Linked DNA regions of Homo sapiens: all the other regions are linked to region 1. The links come from fine-mapping of genetic effects on plasma protein levels. A gene starts in region 1. Each other region holds a variant in brackets. All regions are shown on one strand. Distances are from middle to middle. Region 1 holds the start of PTPRC (protein tyrosine phosphatase receptor type C). Region 2 overlaps PTPRC (protein tyrosine phosphatase receptor type C). Region 3 overlaps CRB1 (crumbs cell polarity complex component 1).

The links. PIP is the chance, under the fine-mapping model, that this variant and not a neighbour inherited with it causes the effect. The UK Biobank Pharma Proteomics Project read protein levels with antibody pairs (Olink). The fine-mapping took linkage between variants from a reference panel, not from the people measured, so its PIPs are less certain.
Region 2: its variant is fine-mapped to the plasma level of the PTPRC protein (UK Biobank, PIP above 0.99).
Region 3: its variant is fine-mapped to the plasma level of the PTPRC protein (UK Biobank, PIP above 0.99).

The regions. Positions count from the first base shown.
Region 1 is chr1:198,635,445-198,641,652 of GRCh38, reverse strand. It overlaps PTPRC (protein tyrosine phosphatase receptor type C), which reads right to left and starts at 2,613. Exons shown (of 33, transcript NM_002838.5): 1 at 2,516-2,613; 2 at 2,312-2,427. The coding sequence starts at 2,384.
Region 2 is chr1:198,707,211-198,713,418 of GRCh38, reverse strand. It overlaps PTPRC (protein tyrosine phosphatase receptor type C), which reads right to left. Exons shown (of 33, transcript NM_002838.5): 10 at 5,158-5,286; 11 at 3,595-3,732; 12 at 347-466. Among named protein-coding and RNA genes, the nearest start is that of PTPRC-AS1, 43 kb to the right of the region's middle. The variant C/T (reference allele first, on the strand shown) is at 2,533.
Region 3 is chr1:197,370,724-197,376,931 of GRCh38, reverse strand. All of the region lies in intron 5 of CRB1 (crumbs cell polarity complex component 1), which reads right to left. Among named protein-coding and RNA genes, the nearest start is that of CRB1, 110 kb to the right of the region's middle. The variant G/T (reference allele first, on the strand shown) is at 2,482.

The DNA.
Region 1 (6,208 bases):
GAAATTCTAAACAAAGTTTGGCTTCCAGTTGCCATGGCAAAGAGGCACAGAGCAAGAGGATTAGGAAGTCTTGAGTAAAACTGAACCCTGCCTGGTTGTTGCCGTGGCAAAGATTAACTTTGGCCTTGTCCGTGTGTGCATTTTAGATATTAAATAAAATATTTGAATTATGCATAGAGTTACCATTGATGGCTCTCTACATTTGGCTCTATTTCTTTATGCCTTTACAGCATACAATATAAATTTTGTTCCCCAAAAGTTTATTATTTCCTGTAGGCACTAAACTAATTTTAACACGTTAAAATGAAACATAGAATCCAACTCATTTGTTGCTAAAAAAGAAAAATAAATAATTTAAAGCATTAAGAATTTTCCAAATTATACATTAAATCACAAAATGTTTCTTGCAACTTGAAAGGATTATAAACAATATTTGCAGATACAAATGATTATATCTGTATATGTTTTTCCACAAATAAGCATATATCTCAGGGAGTCTACAAATGTCTTTTAGAAAAATGTTTGCTCTCAATATTTATGTGAGCAACTGAAGATAAAGTTGAGTTTTCAAAATAAATTTATGTATATCCATTTATTTGCTATGGTATAAATCATTCAGCAAAGTTGATATAAAGGTTTCTAGACCCCATCATATTATTTCAATTATAAATTCAAAGATGTGTCTTATGGTTAAAAAAACATCCTGTAATAGAATGAGTTGAATTTTTATTCACAAAGGAAATATTTCACACTCTGATTTAAGCATATAATAGGATATTTGGTCTATTCAGGAGGTTGGGAAGTTTGCCTGGAATAAAAAGCAATGGAGCTAGACCTGAAGAAAATAATAGAAGTTAAATGAATATGAAGAGAAGAAAAATATTCTGGCTTACAAAATGTCTCAGTATTTCTTTATGCTCATTTAAAAATGCTTTTCGACATTTCCTGAGTGGGAATTTTAAATGAAAATCTGTTCTGATTTGTGATAATATACATATATCACTTCATTGAGATTATTATTCTTTATAATTTACTTTTTATTATCATAAGCTTTAAAGGGATGGTAACTTGATAAACATTTTCTGTACTAAGACAAATGCTGCAAATATATAGATTTTTAAAAAATTCACCTTTGCAATAAAAAGCAAAACAGCCACAACAACAACAACAAAAATCTTATGTTGTTTTTCTTTCCTCTTTCTTTCCTCTCCAAATAGAAATTGTCAATGTAACATGCTCAAGAGGTAGCTACTTCCCTGACTTTCAGAGGAAAGAAGAACGGTAAAAGTCAAAAAAAGACTTCAAAGTGAATTGTAATAAGCAAGTTGTTTTAAAATACTTTTTATACTTTTTGGAATTTCTACAAAAATTTTATTTTCAATGTCCTTTTAGATACTACATCATAAAGAGAAATATTAAATATTAATTATTAGTTACATTCTATAATCTATTGAAATGTACTCATGATTCATATTGACGCCGCTCAAGAACTATCCATTGAATAGACCATAAATGTGCAAAGATTTCAAACTTTAATAGGCACTGGAAGTCCAACTAGTTGCATTTTCCTACTGAATACAGCATTTGCATGATTTTTAAGAGTTTAAATATTTCTATCTCATCAAGGCTGTAATATTTACCCACCACCCAGGAAGGGCGGTGGCTCCACAAGAATTTCTAAAGCAAAAATGTATTAAAACTATTAACAAGAAACTAAAAACTTGATTTAAAATACATTCTGTGATAAAAATTGCAGAAAGTTAATATTTTACTAAATATCTCAATATATTTTTGAACTATTATATACCCAAGTATTCAATAAAATATGTCAATTAAATTCAAAATTTGAGGAAGCAAACTTCAGGTCTGAAAAGAGGGAGTGGCTTACATACAACCAAAGCTGTTTTATGACTTTTTAAAAGATCAAATTTGTTAAAAGAATAAAAACTCACTTATTTTATCATTAAAAAATTCTCAGGCTTTTATAAATGTGTGTTATTGTCACTTTGGAAGTTAAGTAATAATGTTGCTTTTGTAATATCTTTGAACAGTTGTAAATAAAGATACAGATAGACATTGCTTTCCTTTTAAAATTGTATTTTTTGTCCCGAAACATTTATGTCTTTGTAAACAGAAACAATGTATTCTGTCACACAACTAGCTATGTCTCCCTGAGACAACAATCTTGATGGTTTACAGCAGGCTTCTCACTTCCAGTTACCAACACATTTAAATTATTTTTATGTCTATTTCAAACATTCCTCCAAAAGAGAAAAAATAATTTAAAAAATATTAATATCCTTGTACTTACCTGTCACAAATACTTCTGTGTCCAGAAAGGCAAAGCCAAATGCCAAGAGTTTAAGCCACAAATACATGGTCATATCTGGAAGTCAGCCGTGTCCCTAAGAAACAGCATGCGTCCTTCTGAAAAGCAAAATAATTGTTATCTCTGTAGAAGTTTTTCTCTGTAAAAACGAATCAAAAATGTAAAAGTAAATAAATAAATGCATACTCTCCACTGTTGTCTTATCAGACGAGGAACAATTTCCTCCTCTGTTACCCTAAGAACAAACCACTTGCTAGCTGCATGAACTGCTAGGTGATGATGTCAGATTCGGTTTTACTAACTTCTCCAAAAATACTGTAAGGGTCCTCTTTGCAGGAAGTCAAAAAAGTTGTTCTAAGTCAGTAGAATGGCATTGCACTTCCTTAATTCAAGTAATTACACCAAGTTAGAAAGCCTTTTAAAAGATTTTCCCATCAAGGAAGATGTTTTTAAACCATCCAAATAATGCTCCTTTACAGTATCCATTACCATTTTTTTTAAATTAAATCCCCACAAAATAATCAATAATTTTCTTACTTAAGAGATGACAAACAGATTCAGCATAAGTATAACAAAATGGGTGTTGGCAAGATGACTTAGTAGAAAGTATCAATATTTGACTTACTGAGACGGCCAAATGAATGAAAAAACTACTAATCTGGTTATTTTTGGCAACCCAGTATCATTTACCATTAGGGCATTCAAAACTCAGCAATATGACAGTTTTAGCAGTAAAACCCATTTCTTATGCAAAAGCACTTTCAGACAGCTTAACAGTTTTGCCCCAAATCTTTCACAGATATCCTTGTGAAGCTAGGAGTGGAATCAGAATGTCATTTCTACTATAGTTACAGCAAACCCTGCTTCCAAAAACTAATGTTTCTGTGACTTAAGATGTTCTTGGCGCTACTGATGAGGGAAAGGACAGTGAAAACCAAGAGATACCTTTAACAAAAGTTAACTTGTTTCCTTTTTCTCAGCAATACTTTTTCAACTTTTTTAACAAATAAGACAATGAATTGTATTAACACAATGCTCTTCACCATTCTGATGTTCTTAGTTAAGTCCATCTATTAGGAAAATGCTTACTGGCAAAAAGTATAAATTCAACAATACAATTAGATGAATTGGTTTTATTAATACAATATCTATATGCCTTTAAAAATAAAAGTACACACATGTGCAACTCATTTATTTGAACAATAGATAATGCTTGGGGGACTTTTAGACAGACAGAGCCCTTGTGGTAATTCTGCAAACCCTAGTTTGGAAGCATTATTGTAGGGTTCTTATATTTAAGTAAATAAATCTTTTGATACTTACAAACTTTTTTGTTTTACTCTTACATTGGCTGCTAGGAACTACAGAGCCAAATTTCTATCACACTTTGTGCAAATGGAAATAACCCCACAGCTTAAACTCTAGGTAATAACCTTTTAATAAGATTGTAGTTAAGAATATTATTTTACTATGATTATTATTATATTTAACTTATGGAGCACTTACTATGTGCAGGAACTATGCTTTGCACTTTACATATATTGTATAATTTGTACGATACCCTTGAGCTAGATAATGTTATTATTCCCCATTTTATCTGTGATGTTCAGAGAGGTTAGTTGAGTTGCCTAAGATCTTGCAGCTAGGATGTAGACAAGCTATATTTAGAACCCAAGTCTCCAAGTTTAATTTTGCTTTCCTTACTCACCTTACTATTGCCCTTTATTTTTCTCATCCCTTTTACCAATCTTTTTGTACTATGTAAGTTTATAATACTCGAAAAGATAGACCTTTGAATCAGTGAAAATGAAATTATTCTCTTTTTGCAAATGTATTTTTAAATAAGATAACTGTGCAAGTAAGCACTAATTTTCATGTGGGTAGGCCTAATAAAACATCAGTGTCAGAACTCATGGATTTGAATACTCAGCTCCTCAGCCTATGTCTTAAAATACATTTGCAACAGAAAACTCTTTGGGGATTTGCTTTAAATATCTTTAAGCAAATACTTGTGTTCTGTGAGCTTGCTGTTATGGCAGAATATTTGGCAAAATTAGAGGCCAGGAGAAAAGTGTATATGATCTTTTAAAAGGAAGAAAAGTATATAAAATATACTCTATAACAATGTGAGTTTAGCAGCCTTAAACGGACATTTTAAAAGGGATTTGTGGCTTTAAAAAAATAGTAAGAAGTTAGGAGATTCAATTCCATTTCAGACAGGTGAGAAGACAGATTCTACCCAAGGAATCCAAGATAGATTAGCAACAAATGAGTTGCATTATATGTGTTAATCCAACACATATATAATGTTTTAACATATTCATTGTGTTAAAATTGAGTTTAGTGTCTATAGGAAATACTAGAATTTTAAGCAGCAAAATCTGTACTGTGTATTATAAAGGTGTAAAGACATACAGCTTGAAATACAGAGACATCAGCAGATGAATGTATATACAATTCTGATGGCTCAGAATGGAGACAGTGGCAACCCAGAGGTTTGTTAGCCTGAGGTCCAGGCTGTCAGGAGGGTAGGCAAGAGGGAAGGCCCTAGCAGCTTGTTAGGAGACAGAGCCAGGTTGTCCTTGATGGTATACTACACTAAGCCAGACATCCAGGAAGGACTCCGGGTAGCAGCTTGTCTTTCCACAGGGCATCTGGGGAAATTTCTACTGTATCACATACAGGCCTGGCATCCAAGCCTTCCGCTTGCATCAGCAGAAAACTCTCAAAGAAAACAGGAGGAGTATTTATGACATACTGATGTGATCCACTCTCACTGATTCCCAGAGGGAGGGTGGGCTGGTTGCTGATAAATGGGTATTTTGCAAAGAACAACTGAGTCTAGGAAATGGGCAGGAAGTAACACCAGATTTCATACATAGTAAATACAATGGCACTTGTTGAGTAGCTGAAAACAGTATGTATCCAAAGTCATCTCAAATTTTGATGAAGAAAATTTCAAAATAATCATAGTTAATCAACTTACAATAGATTTTTAAAAGCTTAAAAACTTAATATTTACTTAAATCAATAAAGTCATTTTCCAGATTTTTAAGGCTACCTACAGTAGAGGTTATATAAAGACAGAAACAGATTACAAGTTAACTACAGAGGCAGATGTTACTCATTTGTTCATGCATTCATTCACTCATTCATTCAACAAATACAGAGCAAGTTCCTAATGTAATCCAGTCATTTTACCTGACATGAGGAAAAAATGGTGAGCAAAAACAGGCATGCTTTCTTTCCTATCTACACTTTAGTGGAAGACACAATAATTAATTATCCAGTCATCATGACACTTTCATCACAAAGGCAATACTTCCACACTGTGATTTAAGCATATAATAGGATATTTGGTCTATTCTGGAGGTTGGGAAGTTTTCCTGGAATAAAAAGCAATGGAGCTAGACCTGAAGAAAATAAGTTAAATGAGTATGAGGAGAAGGAAAGTATTCTAGGCAGAAATAATAAATTTAAAGGAGGAGACTGTGTTCAAGGAACAGGAAGAGATGTGAGGCTGATGTAGAAAGAAGCAGAGCCTGGAAAATAAGGAGGTTTCAGAGGGAGATGATGGCCAAATCTTGCCAGGCCTTGCAGGTTCCAAGAATATGTATTTACCCTAAGAGCTATGAGGAAGTTATGAAGCATTATAAACATTGTTCTTGAATTTTCTTACCAATCGTCTCCATGTTGCCAGATTTTATACCATCATTTGTTTCTCTACCCTCATATTATGTGACTTCTTAGTAGCATTAAACAAAATCTTTCCTTCTCTAACCATTATGTTTTGTCAGCTTCCAAAACATCATTACCTACAAATTTAAATTTCCTTAACCCTTATTGGCTTTTCCTCAACAGTTGCCATATTGGGTCCTC
Region 2 (6,208 bases), 72 kb before region 1:
GGAGGCTGAATGATGAGTTCAAAGTGAGTCAAATCACTTACATAATACTTGCAAGACAGAAATGAGTGTTGTCATCCAGAGGTTTTCTGTCTCTAGGCTTTGGAGCACAAAGATTTAAACTAAGACCAAGAAGGACAAGCAAATATTTAGAATGTTCTGGATTTTAGTCATTTCTGGGGCTGGAAAGCTTTGAATGAGTGGAAGCAATTCTAAGATCAGGGAGTATACTATGCCTATGCAGTCTCTAAGCAGAGAGCTTTGTGACTCACTGGCTCAATAAAAATTTCTAGTACTTTCAAATTCTTGATTTCTCTTTTCTGATGAAATTAAATTCTACACAAATTACCTGTCTCTTTTATATAACAGAGGGTAAAATTATGAAATGATCTTTGAGGGGGATTCCAGGTAATTACTCCTTGATGTGCAGCTTCACTTCTACAAAAAATAATCTGAGGCTCTCCTGGACCTGTTAAAAGAATAAGAATGTTATGTAATATGAAAAATAAGACATGGATAAAGCATTCTTCATATTATAAGCATGCATTATTGATAACCATATTTTGACAAATGATGAATTCAAAATAAAATTTAAAGAAATGCATCTGGGCTCATTTAATTTGTTTTAGAGTAAATTCCTTTAACAAAGTAAATGTCACACCAGATTGGCACTGTGAAACCTAAGCATTCCACTGACTTGAAGATATCTAAGAACCCCCTCTTCCTTTCATATACATTATTCATATATATTCTTGCCCAGATACTACCTAAAAATCCTGGAATTTGTAGATTTTGCTGTGCTAAAAATCTGGCATTCATAGCACCAATAAATTTAGCAGTCATTGAGTAGCACTTGTCATTGCTTCCAGTAACTAGTCATTTGAAACTGAGAAAAACTGATAAATGTTTAAATAAAATGTCTGAAGTAAAATTTACATTAAAATGTACCCATTTGAGATACAGTTTAATGCATTTTTAACAAATGTATACATCCACATAACCAACACCACAATCAAGATAAAGAAAATTTCTGTGATCCCAAAATGTCCTTCTGTGGTACTTCCCAGTCAACTCAGCTCCTTTGACCAGACTCACGTACCTTCTGATCAACTTTCTGTTAACTACAGATTAAGTTTGTCTTTTTACCCATTGCATGTAAATAAAATGAAACAAACAGTAAGTACTTTTTCACTCCTAACATATTGCACTCAATGTAATGTTCTGAAGATTCATTCACTTAGTTGCATGTGTCATAGTTAGAATTTTAAAAAATTATCAGTAGTTATTGTAAAGATACACCACATTTTACCTAGGATTCAACAGTGAATACACATTTGGGCTGTTTCCAGGTTTTGGCTACTATGAATGCATCTGCTTTGTCATGTTTCCTCTTTGGTAAATACCTGGAGTGAAATTCCTGGGTCATGGCTGCACATCCTGACCAATAGTTAGTAGTATCCGTATTCTTAAGTTTAGCCATTTTAATGGATGTATAGTATTATCATCTCAGTGTTGTTTTAATTTGTATTTCTCAGTTAACTAATGATGCTGAGCATCATTTAATGTGCTTATTAACCACCTGTGTATCCTCTTTTGTGAAGTATATATTAAAAATGTTTGTCCATTTTCAATTGAGCTGTTTTAGTCCTTATTTTGCAGCTGAAAGAGCTCTCTGTATATTCTGGAAAAACTTCTGTTGTTGAAAAAATTAATTTTGATTTTTTACAAACTATTTATTGCTTTTTTATTTCCTTAGTGGCCTCATCCAAAGAGCAGGAATATTCAATTTTTATGCACTCCAATTCATCAAAAAAGTTTTATGTTTCTTGCTTTTGTGCCCTAGGAAATCTTTGCTAAAGCTACACATTTTCTCCTATGTCTTTGATTAGAATTTTTTAAATTATAGCTTTAGTATTTAGGTCTGGAATCCATTTTGAATTAATTTTTGTGTTTGTTGAGAGGTGAGAGCTGATGTTCATTTTTTTTCTACAGAGATACCAGGATCATTAGTTGAAAAGACTATTTTTCCCCCACTGAAAACATTTTGTGCTGTTTTCAAATATAAAACATAGTTTTCTGGGATTTCTATTTTGTTGCATTGATTATAAAGAATGTAATAATTGTGGTACTAATAAAAATACATTAAAATTTTCTAGTTATGCTGAGGATATAGTTTTTACATAGTTTTATTTGCTGTTCTTGTAGCTATATATTATTTTGGAGAAGTATGAGGAGACAAGGATTTAGGCAGCCTCTTTAGCCTTCAACTATCCTTTTTACATAAAACTTAGAATCACGGGCCGGGCATGGTGGCTCATGCCTGTAATTCCAGCACTTTGGGAGGCCAAGGTGGGCGGATCATGAGGTCAGGAGATTGATCTCTACTAAAAATACAGAAAATTAGCAGGGCGTGGTGGCACGCACCTGTAGTCCCAGCTACTTGGGAGGCCGAGGCAGGAGAATTGCTTGAACCCAGGAGTCAGAGGTTGCAGTGAGCCGAGATCACGCCACTGCACTCCAGCCTGGGCAACAGAG[C/T]GAGACTCCGTCTCAAAATCAAAACAAAACAAAATTTAGAATTACATTTATAAGTTTTGTCAAAAATTTCTCAATATTATCATTAATAAACAAATTCAGTAATGTGACAGACTGCAAGATCAATACAGAAAAATCAATTGTACTTTTGTACATTAGTAACAAACCTGAAAATGTGATTAAGAAAACAACAGCATTATAACCAGGAATAAACTTAAACTAGAAATAAATTTAACAGAAGAATTATAACACTAATGCACTGAAAACTACAAAACATTTTGAAAATAAATTAAAGAAGACATAAATTAATGGAAAGATATCTTGTGTTCATGAACTGGAAGACTAACATGGTTAAGATGGCAATATTTCCCAAATTTATCCACAGATTCAATGCAATCCCTGAAAGAATCCCAGATGGCTTCTTTATAAAAATTGAAAAGTTGATCCTAAAATTCATACAGAATTCCAAGTTCCCTTAGATATTCTAAACAATCTTGAGGAAAAGTAACAATTTGGGGGAACTTACAGTTTCCAGTTTCAAAATTTACTACAAAGCAGCAGTAATCGACAGTGTAAGTATGACATATAAATCAATAAAATAAAACTGAAAGTTCAGAAATAAACCCATCATTATGGTCAACTAATTTTTGATAAGAATGGCAAGACTATTCAGTGGGGGAATAAATAGTATTTTCAGCAAATGGCGCTGGAAAAATTAGATGGCCATATGCAACAAAATGAAATTAGACTGTTACCTCACACCATATACAAATATTAACTCAAAGTGGGTAACAGAGCTAAATTTAAGAGCCAATGCTATAAAATTTTTAGAACAAAACATATGGATAAATCTGCATGACTTGGCAATGGACTTTCATATACGACACCAAAAACATAAGCAAAAGAAGTAAAAATAGATAAATTGCGCTTCATTGAAATAAAAAGCATATGCTTAAAAAGTATCAAAAACAGCAAAAAGACAATTCATTTCCTATGATTCTCAAATAATTATAAGAACATGAAGAGAGAAGCAATTTTACATATAAATGCAAGTAACATACTCACTCCCAAAATCTGTTTTAATAATTTTACTTGCGTTAGTAAACTTGTGGTTATTATAGAGTATTTCTGAGTCACACTTATACTCATGTTCGGGTTCAAGGTTTTCTAATTTAATTTCTTTATTATCAAATATCATATTACCTGAAATAAAGAAATATTTCGAATGAATATATCGATGCAATATTTCACGCACACATTTATTTTCTAATTTCACATTTATAATTCTCTATTTAATATTTATCAGATTGAAACATCTGTGGAAATTACCAAAATAATAAAAAACCCTAAAAATAATTTTTACATTCAACTTTTATGAAAATACAGGCTGAGTTTCCCTTATTCAAAATTCCTGGCACCAGAAGTGTTTTGGATTTAGTTTTTTTTTTCAGATTTTGGAATATTTGCATTTAGATGATACAATATATTGGGAAGAGGACACAAGTTCAAATGCAAAATTCATTTATGTTTCATATATACCTCATATACATAGCTTGAGGTCATTTATTTTTCTCTGGGGATGCTGACTAAATTCTGTGTTATGTTTCTGCATTTTGACTATGACCAGTCACTTTAGGTCACGTGTAAAATTTTTCACTTGTTTGAGCCGCATCATGTTGGCACTCAAAAAGTACTGGATTCTGAGAACATTTTGGATTCTGGATTTTCAGATTAGGGATGCCCAATCTGTATATAGCAAATACAACTTAAAGTTGAAATTGCACCTCACCTAGTCTTCATCTAATAGATTGTCTAGAGAGAACATTTTATCATTGGTCTGTCATGATTGCTCTTCCTTTCCTTGTCTGCTTGCCTGATGGCCATGAATCTATACTATGGTGATTAGGTGATGATTACACCCAGCGCAATGCTCCATCCTCTATGTGTGTAGCTGTGGATATGCGTGCATGCGCATGCACACCTGAGCACATCTGTCTGTCATGCCAGCTATGGCCTGGCAGATGGCTTTAAGTCAAAGGGTGGGAGAGTTCACCTCATTAAATTCAAATACACTTTAAAAATACTATCTCAATTATTAGTTGCCTCAATTCAAATCCAAACATATCCCTAGATGCACTTGCTGTTCTTTTTCTGCTTTCTTCTTATTTAAGTGTTCTTGAACTTGTGTATGAATTTTGTTGATGCAGGATGGAAAAAGTAAACTCTTGAACCATACAATCCTGTATTTTTTTTCCTTACTTCATAACAGAGTTTGTGTATTATCATTTCCTTATAACACCCTTCTTTCATGATCTCTTCAACAATGCCTGTGTATAACAATTGCCAAGAAAATTATTGTAAATTAATTGACTTTCAATTTTTAGATATTTATTTTTCATGAAAAGTATTCATTTATTTTGTGAATTTGTTTGAATTGTATAGGTAATTTAATTATTTGACTCTAAATATACCACAGACCAAGAAAAAGACAAGAAAGAAAAAAGACAAACAGAGGGAGAACAAGAGAGGCAGGGAGGAAGAGAGAAAGGGCAGAGAGTAAGATTAAATAATATCTAGAACAACATTGTGCCACAAAAAAAAATTCTCTGGTCAATGTTATATTCTTACCACACTGAAATCTGTAGGTAATATTCTGTGTATCACAAGTAAAGGTTTCAATATTTTTCCATTTTAAACAAATAGTAGTATCTGCTTTTTCAACTTGTGTACAATCATGTAACTGAAACTTTTCAACCCCTGACAAGAAGATACAGAAATAAACTTGATTAGTATTTCATAATGTGTATCCTAAGCCCTCATTCATTCCTAACATGTCAGTTAAAGCCACTGAAATTATGCTAATGACATAGAATTTGGCAAGGATTGAGATTGCTATGGGAAAAGTCTAATAACTCTAGGGATTTGTTTCTTTTATTATTTACTTTATTATTTTTAGCACCATATATTTTGGTAGTGTTTCATTTATAAGTTATACCACGTTAAAAAATGAAATGCAAGCAAACATATTGATAAAATTGTAGCTTTCGCACATTTTAAAAAACACTCATTCCATTTTGTATTTTTGTTTTTATCTTAAATTTTTTGTTTACTCTTTACTTACTTTTAATTGAATGATTATTATAAAGTGTATTGGGAGTTTCCCTATTGGGAAATGCATTTTTAAGTATTGTCATCTTCTGTGTTTAATTGGTAATTTATCTCAGTAATATTTAGGGAAAATGAATAAATTAAATGGATTTTATTTTCAAAATACATTTGATGTTAACATATTTAAATGTTAACAAATTTATTAATAGTCTTGAATTATTAAATGATATGACTTTTTAAAAAAATTACACGGCTCTGGAATCCCTTTTCCAGAATGCATTTGGCTAAGAGATGCTTCCCCAGAGTCTGCCCGACGCCTGTCACCCCCTCCTCTTTCCAAGCAGTAGCTTAGCTGACAAAACCAACTTGATCTCACTAACATGACCATAACCTTCCTTTTTATGAATGTATTTTGGTTCTTCCCATACACATCAAATCCTTTATGTTTCTCCCTAATATATTTCAGATAAATTTGTACTTAAAAGAATAAATATATGTACATATATAATTAATACTTCATTTAAGTAGAGGAGAATAAAGAAAGCTTGCAGACAATCACTTAGCAGGATAA
Region 3 (6,208 bases), 1.3 Mb after region 1:
CCCAGCCTAGCTACAGTGAAGAGAGTGAGGACTCAGGAGGTGATTTTGGAGAGGATAACCAAGGACAGATCACACAAGGGCTTCCAAGAATATGTTAAGGAGTACAAGTTTTATTGAGAACATGTGAGCCACTGGACTGTTTGAATGGAAGACTCACATGATCTGATGCATATTATGTTACTACCAAAGCTGTGTGGAGAACTGATTTAGAAAGTCAAGAATGGAAGAACACCAAAACATTAGGCTATTGAAGTAGTTGAGGTGAGACATGACAGTGGCTTGGTCTAGAGTAGAAATGGTAGAGGTGGGAAGTATGATCGTGCTTGAAACACAGCTTAAAGGAGAAGCCAACAAACTGTGTGGAGGAATCAGATGTGGGATATTAAAGAAAGAGAGAAACCAAATACGGCTTTGAATTTATGGCCTGACCAACTGGGTGAATATGCTGTTACCACTTACTGAGATGGGGAAGAAGTGTTTTTGTCGTTTTGTGAATTTTTGTTTTGTTTTGTGATTATTTTGTTTGTTTGCTTTAGCTTAATTTTTTTCTTTTGGGTTTCATGAAGATAAAAAAATAAAAAGTTTTGCCTGGGTTATGTTATGTTTGAAAATCATTTTAGCTATCTAAATACAAAAGTTAAGGGAAGTTCAAGAGAGGAGCTAGGGCTGGAGACAAAAATTTAGATGTTGTAAACATCTATCTAAAATTTAAAGTCAAGAGATTACATGAGATTTTCCAAGGGGTGAAAAAATATGTTTAAGGATTGAATCCTAGGGGACTCCAGCATTTAGAGTCTAGAAAATAGAGGATATGCTAGCAATAGAATGATAGTGAACAAGAAGAAAAGGGGGCAGATGTTAAATAAAGAAATTATATCCAGCAGGTCAGAGAGAACAACTGTAAACTAGAGGCCAGTTAAGATAAGGACTTAAAATTAAGTTTTAGATTAGCAAATGGAAATTGTTGACAGGGAAGTTTTCACCGAAGTAACAAAAACTGCCTTAATGGGGAGGTTACCGGGAAGTGAAAAAGTAGAGAGTAAGTATACACATCTCTTTAGAGGAGGGTGGAATACAGAAGAGGATATCTGAGGAGGTGTATGCATTCTAAGGAGCATTTTTTTTCCAGAGGATAGATAGGCAAGCCAATTAGAATGATTTAGAATAGAGTGGAAAATCAATGATGCAAGATGTATAAAGAATAATTGCTAAAGATCCTGAATCATAGAGAATGAACAGGGTGCCATGCATAAGTAAACTTCAGGTGGGAATGTTGTAATGGAAAAGTAGTCCAAACATAGGCAGGAATTGGGAGGCGGCAAGTAAATGAGTGACAGATAGATAGGTAGGTGTTGGGAGAGTCCATATACCATGGGCACTGAGGATCACTGCAATTCTTGTTGGTTGTACCAAGAATGCAAGATCCTTACCATTCTACCCAGGCCATCTCTCAGGATTGGTTTTTGCAGCAAGCAACTTTGAAACATGAGGTTCAAAGTTGGGACAAAAAACAGATTGGCTTACTGCCTGCTATGAAAACAGATAATTTATCAAGCTATTGTTCCTCAGCTGTGATGCAAATCCACTGCAGGTACACCATCCATCTAGCAAATCACCCCTGTAAGACTTGAATGCAAAAGAAACCTACATAAACATGATACTCATGCAGTCTGCTGTGCTGTGAGTAATATAGTCATTTGTCTTTGACCCAAGAGTTTAGTGTCTTCTGCCAGCATCCATGAAACAGTAACAGGCTAACTCATTCCTTTATAAACAGGGTAAAATTAAATCTCAGACCCAACAGTTATGGCAACAAAGATGAGATCCTGAAAGAGACATGTCTTTCTGGAAGAAAAATGTTAAGAGCCTTTGGGATGGGTTCAGATGTAGAAGATGAGTTCCCTGGACTCCCACTGAAATGGTAGGTGAAAGAGGGAAGCAAAAGACCCCCAAGGTCCTGCCCATCAATCAGATTGGGATTAAAACAAACAGCCTTATATGGTGCCTTGGTTGTTTCTAGCTCTCCTCTAGGTGGGAGGAGGAAAAAACATTATTATGACAATAGGGCAGCAAGCCCTGTGGCTCCAGCCAGAAGGCAACGTATCTGTGACAGCTGAGTCAAGGAGTACTGAAAGATGAAATAAATGGAGTCAACAATGACATCATTTCAATTCAATATAGAACTTTAGTTAGAAAAAAAAATGATGATTTTATTTGATGATGATGAGTTTATTTGATTGAGCCACAAGCAAGAGAAATTGAATTGAAAGTGAAATTGAATGTAAAACCTTGTTTACTAGTGTCGAGCTGCTCTCTCCCTCTATGACCCCTGATTCCTCCCCCTCCCTATTCCACAACATCAACTTCTTTAAGAAGAAATAACATTGTTATATGAGATCTCAAGTTACTAGCTTACTCAGGTGTGGCACTGTTCTTGCTTGGTGACTACCCTTTGACAGGGCAGAGCACAATGGCATGCAG[G/T]GGGGGCAAGAAAAAAGGGGTCCTCTGGGCCCTGACACTCATCAGATATCAGGATATACATGGATAGGAAGCAGCTCTGGCACTTGGTCACCAGCCCCTTAGAAAGGACCAAGCCTTTTCCCACGTCCACTCCCATAGGCTAATCTCCCCATCATCCTCCATTCCTTGCACTCCCAACTGGGGGATAGTATGGTTTTCTGGTGGCTGTTGCTATAACCCCTAATGAGAACAACTAGAATCAAATGGATTACCCAGCATCTATCTAGATGGCTTCCATCATTATCTGGATCCATCCTCTTACCAGAAAACATATCCACTACCACGAACTACAGCAAAGGACTATATGTTTCTAATCTAGAAACTGCATACCAAAGGAGACTCCTGCCAAAAATTGGCCTGATTGTTTTGCAGTAAAGGAGGCCACATTACAAGGAGCATTTTCCCTGCTCACTTCTAGAAAATTGGCTGTGTCAGATCTCTGACCCTCTCTTGGGACTACCATTGGTGCCTTGCTAATATTGACATATTTTTAGATTATTTTGCTGCTATTTCAGTTTGATAATCTGATTCTTATTTTCAGTTTTCAAGACCATCTACAATCTGACAATGGTGTATTTTTGTCATAAAGGCCACCTAGCAATGGGCCAGTAGTAAACATATTCAATGGACATTCCACACTCTTATCATTCTCTGATAAGGCTGCTGGCATCATTGAGATATGGAATAGACTTTTTGGAAACCAATCCTGAAGATTTCTGACTCTCCCTCCTTTCTGTATCTACCTTCTTTGCCTCTTTCTGGCCCACAGATTTTATTAAAACAGTTTATTAAGGCTGTTTGAGCATTAAATATGGCCATGGGCAGGAAAGATTTGTCTCCTGTTGGCCAACTCCTAGGTAATGATCAAGATGGATGGGTAGAAAAATTATGTAAACTTATTTTGAAAATTCATGATTATGCCTTGACCATTTATGAACCTGAAGTGTATTTTCTTCCCCTAGTGACAACCTCATGTCAGCCTGATTTGTACACACTTTGAAGGGCAGCCACATCTAAAGGGGAGACTAAGAGATTCAAACTTAACTTGATGTAGCTACCTGGATTCTTTTATTGAATTAACATGGTCTTAGATCATAAAGACAATGAACACTGGTTGAATATACTATTCACCAACTAGTATAATTACTTATAGTAACCTAACTGGACTAAGTGGGAAATATAATGAATGAATCTCAGTAAATATTTTTTAAAGTGACCTATTCCTATTCATGTCTGACCTCTCTGGACAAAAGGTATTGGTATGAGCAGATGATTGGAGAAGAGGTAAAGTTATAGCTACTGGGTTGGGACACCCTAGTTTCATGGCCATGGAGGGAGAATAACAATTCTAGCACCCGAGCACAGATCACTTTAAACCCCAGGCAGTTCAGGGGAGAGAGGCACTTAGGCTTCTTATTCCTTAGATTCAGCAATGCAGGCTGGCAAAACAATTGTATGGTCTAGCTGAATCTAGGAGCAGCTGCAGTTGACAATCTAAACTCACTACAGGATTTGTCATCCCTGTCCAGGTGTTATAAAAACACCAAAAGTCTTGCAAACTTGGCTGGTCCTAAACTACTTCACCATAGCTGACACCACTAATGGAAGCTCCTGAACTGCCTCCTCCTCAGCCTTGTATGCGTACAAAGAGATAGGTCCCACAACTTTGTTTCAGTTTTTTTATTTGTTTTTTTTTTTTAAAGAGACAGAGTCTCATTATATTGCCTAACCTGGTCTCAAACCTCCTGCCTTGGCCTCCCAAAGCACTGAGATTTCAGGTGTGAACCACTGTGCCCAACCTCAATCTTAATAACATATATTCATACGCTTTTCCTAATACTCAGGCAGCTTAAGTGTTGCCATAAATGGCAATGGGAGCTGCAAGCGATGCTTCTGTTGTACTGAATTAACCAAACCAATGTAACAAAGGTATAAATCAATTTTAACCAGAAATTCTGAACTAGAGTCTGTCCCTTTGTGTTATATGTTTGTATGTGGGGGAATGTCTCTCCTTTGGGGGTTAGTGTTGCTCGTTTATTGCCCCTGTCATTATTGGTAATGACATCAAAGATCAGTATGTCAATCTAAGCTCCCTTACGTGGGTCACAATGGATAACTGACTGGCTTTAGACTACTTTCTGGCTATCTAAAGTTAAGATGATGATTGGTGCCCCTGGGACTTATGTACAATTGGCTGAGTCCAGGGCCCTGGGGAGTAGAGTTGAAATGTATACTACAGGTTGACTTCATCTTATTGCTTAGAGTCCTCTTGATAGTCTCCTTAATTAAATGCTGCATGAGGCAAATTGAACAGATTTAATCCCAGTCTCTGTCAGTCACATTAAGCAGGGTGGCTCATGGAGTGGCATATTCATATGAAAATTCGAGTTCAGCCAAGAACAAGTGGGGTCATGGGATGGATTGCTGGAAGAAGCAACTCATCATGGGCCCTGTGTGTCCTGGCAGTTTCTTACTGGGAATCCTAAGAATGCAAGGCCCTGACTGATCTTTACCTGCCCATTTCTTGGGGTTGGTTTTGCAGCAAGCATCTCTGAAGAATGAAGTAATGTCTCCCTCTGGGACAAGGAGCAGGCTTCTTACTGCTTACCGTAAAAGCGATGAATTCCCCAACTTGATGTTCATCAGTTGCGACAAAAATCTGTCTGTGCAGTACTCATCTGGGCCCATGTAGTACCAACCCTGTGGGAGTTGGGTGCAAGGGTAATTCATGTAAACCTGAGGCTCATGCTGCTGGTTGTGCATTTTTTCCTGACACAAAGTTTTATGTCTTTTGCCAGCATTCACAAAACAGGAACAGGATAACGTATGAGCTTGTAAAAAGGATAAAAATCAAACCTCAGAACTGACAACACTTTTGGTGGCAGGAAGATACTATTTTCCTGATGAAATTAGACTTGATGATCAACTTAGGGTAACAATGAGGGAGGAGGTATTGGAAGTTTGAAGAAATAGAAGATTTAAAAAGGCTCATCTTGGGAAGTAGAGCTCTAGAAGGATTTTTATCTAGTGCTAAAGGCCCCATGAGATTTGGCACCATAAATTTAAAGTGACACTCAACAGTTCAGTGTGTGGCTTGTGAGTTTTTCTCCAACCACATTCAAATTGGTTGTAAGTGTGGAGAAGGTAGAGGATTGATTTAACCATAATTGTACCTTTGTCAGGCAAGTACAATGAAGAGAGAAAGAATCAGGTGAGCCGAAGGTATATGCAAGGGAATAATTATAGTGCTGGACCTTGAAACCTTAGCTGAGACAGAAGGTAAGTGAGGCAATGACTGGAAAAAAAGTGGTTAAGACAACAGACTAGGCTCAACGGAAAAAGTTCTAAAGTATATGAACTGGAATAATTGGAGGTTCTGGTCATAAAACAGAATGATTTAAAGTGATGTTTTTAGGAAGGTTATCAGCGATAATAAGGCCTAAGTTATGACCAAAGAAGTGGGCAGAAGTGTGTGTGGCATGGCAGTCACAGTCATTGGAAATAAGGATTTCAAATAACAGAGATAATGGTTTGTATCGGTTGTCTACACGGATGCTGAAATCCTCAAAATGATGACAGGAGTAAGATATTAAGGTAATCAGTGACTGAGGAGAAGGTACCGTGAGGTAGGAAGAATGTTGCAACCAAAAGAGGTAGTGAGCAGTGCAGTTCAAAGACATGTACTTCA